2 linked regions of the Homo sapiens genome follow. The protein of the gene in region 1 interacts with the protein of each later gene in a biochemical or structural test. Each region holds a gene or a part of one and is shown on either strand. Other genes may lie near its edges.

What was found.
Region 2: the proteins of CD19 (region 1) and LYN form a complex in vitro, tested with the Homo sapiens proteins (one study listed by BioGRID).

The regions. Positions count from the first base shown.
Region 1 is NC_000016.10:28,930,484-28,934,945, reverse strand, and holds the start of CD19 (B-lymphocyte antigen CD19 isoform 2 precursor), read right to left. Parts: upstream 2,976-4,462; 5' UTR 2,946-2,975; coding exon 2,858-2,945; intron 2,601-2,857; coding exon 2,334-2,600; exon of another isoform or gene 2,036-2,333; coding exon 1,832-2,035; intron 1,713-1,831; coding exon 1,437-1,712; intron 1-1,436. UniProt on the Homo sapiens protein: Functions as a coreceptor for the B-cell antigen receptor complex (BCR) on B-lymphocytes. Decreases the threshold for activation of downstream signaling pathways and for triggering B-cell responses to antigens.
Region 2 is NC_000008.11:56,011,691-56,014,920, forward strand, and holds the end of LYN (tyrosine-protein kinase Lyn), read left to right. Parts: 3' UTR 1-2,479; downstream 2,480-3,230. UniProt on the Homo sapiens protein: Non-receptor tyrosine-protein kinase that transmits signals from cell surface receptors and plays an important role in the regulation of innate and adaptive immune responses, hematopoiesis, responses to growth factors and cytokines, integrin signaling, but also responses to DNA damage and genotoxic agents.

The sequences.
Region 1 (4,462 bases):
GACATGGGGCAGTGTCTTTGAGCAAATCGTGGACAAACCATGGCTGTACTCAGAGGCAATGTGTGGATTGAGGGGAGCATAATGATCAGTTTCCTGCTGCAATTAAGGATAGTCACGGTCAAAGTGAAGGGCAGAGTTGAGTTTGCAAGGTTACAGTTGGGATCCAGCACATTGCTTGGATCAAGTTTGGAGTGAAAGTTGGGGTTGGGTTTGTGAATTGCAGTTAGGATAGCATGATAGGATTGCATGGAGAGAGAATTGGCAGAACACTGTGACCAGTTTGTTGGACGGGGTGAGGAAAAAGAAGGATGCCCAGGTTCTTAGCCTGGGCGAGGGAGCAGGTGGTGGTGCCCTCTGCTTACACTGGGCCACCAAGAAGACTATACTTGGGGAAGACATTGAGTTTGATTTTGTATCTGTTGAGCCTGAGGTGTCCATGGGATATCAAATGGCACAGGAGATGGCTGAGTATGGAGCCTGGAATAGAGTCACCAAGGCATGGTGACCCAAGAAGCCATTGAGAGTCAAGTTCAAATAGGAAAGTGTGCAGACAGGGATAAGAAGAGGGCCCAGGGCTCCAAGAGTGAGGAGTTGGGGAGGAAGGAAGACTCCACCCAAGCTGGTGGGCAGGCGCAAGCAATGGTAGGTGAAGACCCAGAAAAGTAGTGTCTTGGAAGCGAGGGAAGAAAGACTTGAAGTCTAGGCCAGGTGCGGTGGCTTATGCCTGTAATCCCAGTACTTTGGGAGGCCAAGGCAGGCAGATCACCTGAAGTCAGGAGTTCAAGACCAGCCTGGTCCAACAGGGAGAAACCCCATCTCTACTAAAAATACAAAATTAGGCTTGGCCCGGCCCTGTGGCTCATGTCTGTAATCCCAGCACTTTGGGAGGCCGAGGCGGGTGGATCACGAGGTCAGGAGTTTGAGACCAGCCTGGCCAACATAATGAAACCCCATCTCTACTAAAAATACAAAAAAAATTAGCCAGGCTTTAATCCCAGCTACTCGGGAGGCTGAGGCAGGAGAATCACTTGAACCTGGAAGGTGGAGGTTGCAGTGAGCTGAGATCGTGCCACTGCACTCCAGCCTGGGTGACAGTGCAAGACTCCGTCTCAAAAAAAAAAAAAAAATTAGCCAGGCGTGGTGGTGGGCACCTGTAATCCCAGCTACTCAGGAGGCTGAGGCAGGGGAATCACTTGAACCTGGGAGGCGGAGGTTGCAGTGAGCCAAGACAAGATGGCACCACTGCACTCCAGCCTAGGCAACAGAGCGAGACTCTGTCAAAAAAAAGAAAGACTTGGAGTCAGTGTTCTGTGTGGAAGTTGGGGTTTGGGGTGAGGCTGGGAGTAGCCCTCGGGTTGGGGGAATCTAAGATTGACTGGCTTCCACTTCTTCCCAGTACCCCCACACAGATGCCTCCCAGTTGAGAGAAACTCTACCTGGCCGAGCAGTGATCTCCAGGTGGAATGACATGGTCAGGTTGCCACGGTGACAATAATACTTTCCAGCGTCTTGAGCTGTGGCCCGGGGCAACAACAGACCCGTCTCCATTACCCACATATCTCTGGCCGGGCGATCGTCCTTCAGCTCTAGGCTCAGCAATGACTTAGGCCCCTTGGGGTGCACATGGGTCCAGGAGAGGGGGCCCCTGGACACAGAGTCAGGGGGTACCCCACAGGACAGCCAGAGTGTGGAGCCAGGGGCCATGGTGAGGTCTGGGACAGGGAGAGATAAGACAAGGAAAGCCTGATCCTCAGGGTTTCACCTCTTCAGTTTCCCCTCCCCTCTGTCTCTGGACCCCCGCTTCCCGGCATCTCCCCAGTCATCACCATACCCTGGCTGAGGCTCTGGTTCAGGCTGTCCCTCGGTGGGAGACACGGAGGCTCTCCCTCCCAGATCTCAGGGCGGTCTTTGGCCCACACATACAGCTTGGGGCTCATGAGCTTCCCGGAAGGGGAGCTGGGGCCCTCTGAGGACCTGTTCTTCAGGCCACAGCCCAGGCCACCTAGGTCCGAAACATTCCACCGGAACAGCTCCCCTGGGAAGAGACCCAGAACCAAATGCAGAGACACCCAGGAGAGGGAGAGAGATAGAGACTCAAAGACAGAGATAAATAGAGACAAAGACCCGCAGAGAGAGAGAAGACAGTGAGAGGTAGAGGGACAGGAAGCAGCTCATACTGAAGCCACGAAGCCCCAGGAGTCTGCCCACCTAGCTCCGAGTTTCGCCCTCAATCCCTCCAGCCCCTCTCTCCAGCTCCATTGTGGCCGCGGACCTCTTCTGTCCATGGTGGCCTCCCTTCTCTCCTCCTGCCCCTGCCCCAGCCCGGCCCTCACCGCTGCCCTCCACATTGACTGTCCAGCCAGGCTGCCAGGCCTTCTCAGAGGGGGGCCCCGGCTGGCACAGGTAGAAGCCCCCCATCTGTTGAGAGACGTTGAAGATGAAAAGCCAGATGGCCAGGGGCCTCATGTGGATTCCCAGGCCTGGCAGCCCCAGGCTGAGTTTTAAGAAGGGTTTAAGCGGGGACTCCCGAGACCAGGTCAGCTGCTGAGTGGGGCCATCTGAGGTCCCCTTGAGGCACTGCAGCACAGCGTTATCTCCCTCTGTGGAGAGAGAGGGAGAGAGGTGTGGGCATGGGTGGGGGGGACCTCCAAGCCCCCCGACTCCTCACACCAGGTTATAGAGCAGAGGACTCCAAAAGCTGGGAGTGGAGGAGCCGGCAGAGTCCTTCCAACCCTTTCCTGAATTTTACAAATAAGAAAATGGAGGCTCAGAGAGGGTAAGTTACTCAGCCAAGGACACCCAGCCACAACTCAAGTTTCCAGCCTCAATCCCTTCCCTTTCTGCCCTTTGGACATACCTTCCACCTTCACCACTAGAGGTTCCTCGGGCCTGACTTCCATGGGGGTGAGGAAGAGGAGGAAGAAGAGGAGGCGAGGAGGTGGCATGGTGGTCAGACTCTCCGGGGCACCCAGCTTCGCGCAGGGGATGCTGGGGCAGGCAGGGGCCTGGAGGGCACTCAACCATGGGTGTCTGCGGGGGCGGCAGGCAGTCCCCCCAGAGAGGAAGGCGGTGGTCACGCCTCAGGCCCCATTCTCCAGGAACCCTCCAGACTCACAACACTTGCCTCCTCCCTGCCACGCTGTTTTATTTTCATCCCAGCTCTCACTACCACGGGAAATGATCTTGTGTGTTTATTTGTTCATTTCTGTTTTCTGCACAAGAATGTGAGCCCCTTGGAGTAGAGACCGTGTTGTTCACCACTAATTGCAAGTGCTCTAGAACAATGCTGGGCACATAGACTCCTTCTCAAAAAAAAAAAAAAAAATTAGCCGGGCATGGTGGCGCACACCTGTAATCCCAGCTACTTAGGAGGCTGAGGCAGGAGAATCACTGGAAACCAGGAGGCGGAGGTTGCAGTGAGCCGAGATCACACCACTGCACTCCAGCCTGGGCACCAGAGTGAGACTCTGTTTCAAAAAAAAAAAAGAAAAGAAAACAGTCCTATACAAATATTGTTTGTGAAGATTAAAAATGACAATATGTTCAGCACTATTAGCCCAGTGTCCAGCACATCATAAGCCCTCAGTTAATGAGATACAGCTTCAATTAATGCCTAAGAGCTCAAGTCATACTGCCTCAGTTTAAAACCAGGCAAAAGCCAGGCACAGTGGTACACGCCTATGGTCCCAGGTCCTTGGGAGGCTGAGGTAGAAGGATCGCTTGAGCCCAGGAGTTCAAGGCTGCAGTGCACCATGATTATGCCTGGGAATAGCCACTGTGCTCCAGTCCGGGCAACACAACAAGACCCTGTCTCTAAAAGAAAAATTGTTTTAAAAGAACCCAGGAGTTCTAACTCCTAAATCTGTTCTTATTCTGCCCCATGCCTCTCCTCTCTGTCTCTCTCTTTCTCTGTCACTCTCTATGTGCCTCTGTGTCTTTTTCACTGCTGCAGGGACTCAGAAAAAGAATTCAGGGACCCAAGAGACCCACTTTCTCAGTGGCTGATTCCCAGGCCCATCTCACCAGGCTGTGACTTCCTGTTTGCTGTGGGCAAGCCCCAGGGGACCCTCCCTACAGGTGGCAGGGCCTCCACTTCCCTTTGGCCAGTTGAGGCGGCTGGGAGGCGGAAGAATGAGGCATGAATGAAGGGGAATGAAGGGGGCGAGTAGCAGGACTCAATCTGCCTTTCATTCAACAAAATCTCTCTAATCCCCTCATTAGCTACCCAGCTGCCCAGACTGGCTTTCACTAGAGCATGTCATTCCCCTGCTTAAAACATGTCAGTTACAGCCAGGCACAGAGGCTCATGCCTGTAATCCCAATACTTTAGGAGGCCGAGGCGAGAGGATCCTTTGAGGACAGGAATTTGAGACCAGCCTGTGCAACACAGCGAGAACCCATCTCTATAGAAATTTTTTAAAAAACAAAAAATGTCAGTTGCTTTTCATCTAGCTAAAATAAA
Region 2 (3,230 bases), on another chromosome or scaffold:
CTTTTTTCTAAATTTTAACTTTGTTTCCTATGTGATTTTTTTAAATGTCCTTTCTAAAATATTCTAAAATTATTGATTCACAAGTGCCATGTTCAGAACTATAGAATATTACTGTTACATAATGTCTGCACAGCTGGTCCCTTGATTCAGTGGTAAGGTTTTTGTGTACACCCCCCTGCTTGCATTTTATTTCAGAACCACAAGTATTACCCAATATGTTACATGGAGAGGAACTATAAAGAATCCCTAAGGCAAAAAGAAGTCTCTAGAAAATGACTAGAGGTTTTTTTTTTAGCATAACAAATTTATTTAAAGAAAATTATTAAATTTATCTTCGCCTTGTTTTGCTTCTCCCAGTTCCTCCTCTTCTTGCCATTTTCCACTTGTCTTTCCCTCCCAATCAAGCCTGTGATCCTTACCTCCATGTGGGCCCTTCACCAGCTTGGGCCTCATCTCTGGTGTCCAGCATGTGTGGAAGTCACACGTTCCCTTGATGAACAGCACACACAGTCTCCTTACTTAGCTATAGGTTTCCAGCCTCCCTGTGACAGACAGGCATAATGAGGGGCTGAATAGGTGTTTGTAGCATTTTCGGGTATCCAGTGGTGTGCAAAATGGCTCATGTCATCACACCTCAGGTTATTGTAGAGAACTGGAAAGACAGAATCCATACTCCCTACCGCCAAGATTCTGACTTAGCTGTTGTGCAGCGGGAGATGTATGTCAGTCTATTTTAAAAGCTTCTCCAGTCAGCTAGACACAGTGGCTCATGCCTGTAATCTCAGCACTTTGGGAGGCTAAGGCAGGAGGATCGCTTGAGCTCAGGAGTTAGACACCAGCCTGAGCAATATAGCAAGTCTCTACAAAAAATTTTAAAAATTAGCTAAGTGTGGTGGCACATACCTATGGTCCCAGCTACTCAGGAGGCTGAGGTGGGAGGATTGCTTGAGCCCAGGAAGTCAAGGCTGCAGTGAGCTATGATCGTGCCACTGCACTCCAGCCTGGGCAAGAGTGAGACCCTGTCTCAAAAAAAAAAACCAAAAAAACAAAAAAACCCTTCCCTGGTGAATATAATGTATGCTCAGTCTTGAGAGTCACCATTTGGTTTGACCCATATTACAAAGCCCAGCCTTCTTTTTCCTCAGATGGTTTCATTTCTCAAAGGGGAGTGGAAGAGAAGGAAGGAGGAAAAAAACGTGCCTTCCTTCCTGGTGAACATGAAGCTCACTGAACCTAAAGGAGACTCACAGGCTAGAAACCAGTGTCCTTAGTAGTAGGGGCCACCTGGGGCTTCCGTGGCTTCTCCAGGCATACCTCCTGAGGTTCCACAGAATCCCCTTGCAGAAAGTACTTCTGATGAGCCACTGGGAACGTGTACTGTCCAAGCCCCCTTCTAGGGGAAATTCACTGCCACAGAAGCCAGCAGCCCTGGCTGTCCCAAGGGTGCATAAAAGGATAATAACTAAAAGGAGGGAATTAATTTTGTTGCCTACACCAGGGATAGATCGAGGGCACTGAAAGCATCATAAGTATAAACTCATCTCCACGTCAGCTTGTGGAGTCTGCTTTCTCGCTCTCTCTTTTTTTTTTTTTTTTGACAGAGTCTCACTCTGTCACGCAGGCTAGAGTTGCAGTGGTGCGATCTCAGCTCATTGCAACCTCCCCCTCTCTGGTTGGAGCGATTCTTCTCCTGCCTCAGCCTCCCTAGTAGCTGGAACTACAGGCACACACCATCTCGCCTGGCTAATTTTTGTATTTTTAGTAGAGATGGGGTTTCACCATGTTAGCCAGGCTGGTCTCGAACTCCTGACCTCAGGCGATCCGCCTGCCTCGGCTTCCCAAAGTGCTGGGATTACAAGTGTGAGCCACTGTGCCCGGTCGGGGTCTGCTTTCTCTTTATTCCCCGTCCTCTCACAAACTACATCCAGGGGCGGTAGCTGCTAAAAGGACTCAATTCTGCAACCTCAGCTTCTGACACCTTCAAATAAATTAAATGCTGGTCCTAGGGCTCGCTCCCCAGCTCTTCTGATGTCACTGCCAGGTTCCACAGCCAGTTGTCGGACATCTCCTGCTTCCTCAGCCAAGAACACCTCTCAGATGAGATCAAACCGCCCAGCTTTCCTCTTAGCATCTTCCTTTATTTTCCACTTCTGGCTGGTGGAAGAGAGATCGTAGTTCTCTATTCCCTACATTTTAACTCCACGAATATTTTAGATTAAGTGAAGTCTTGCTGTTCTTCCTGATGGAAATGGTAATTATAAACATACAAAGATACCCATACACACATTCTTTACTCAGGGCCCTCTTGTGCTTTGGCAAATGATAAAAATTATCTCTAACTCACACAACGACCCTGGAAGATCTGGACAATGCTATCACTATTTCACAGCTGAGAGATCGGGAGCATTTAAAGCCACAGAAGGAATAGATTGGCTTCGCTTCATATTGTTTCCTTGTGAAATAAAACCAGTGAAACACCTTTGTGTAGAATCTCCCTGACTCAGCTGAGTGTTCTGAGTAAGCAAGGGTATTACTTACAAGATGCACCATTTGAGCCCACACAGATGGGAGGGGAAATTTTTCCTTAAGTAATTTTATTTGGGTAGAAAAGTAATGCAAGAATTTAACTTACCATTCACACTTTTAAAGACAATTTGTAGAGACTACACTTCAGAATAAAATGTTTTGGCCAGCTACAGTGGCTCACACCTGTAATCACAATACTTTGGAGGGGCTGAATCAGGACGATCACTTGAGGCCAGGAGTTTGAGACCAGCCAGGACAACATTATGAGACCCTGTCTCTACAAAAAAAAAAATTAAGTTTCAGTAGCATTTATGTTCCATTTCATAACATGAATGTTACTAAAACTGATAAAAATTTTATCCTGAAAAGTTTTAACTTGATAGACGTGTAAGAGGAAAGCCTTCCAATTTAATTTCCTGTGTGCTGATAAATCTATTAAATACTTCAAGTCAGAGTGCCAAAAAGTGTCACAGAATTCCCGAGATGGCCACAGATATTCACAGATCTTGAATATTTCTCTTTAAGGGGGAAATGACAGGGAATCTTGGCGGCCTCTATCTCTAGGTCTTTGGAAGGACTTTAGAAATAATCTAGATTGGCCAATGTTCAATGTTAACGCAGAACTTTTAGAAATAAAAGAGGCCTTAATCTACAGCCCCAAAAGTAGATACCATGTCACACAGCAAGAAAATTATCTGTGATTT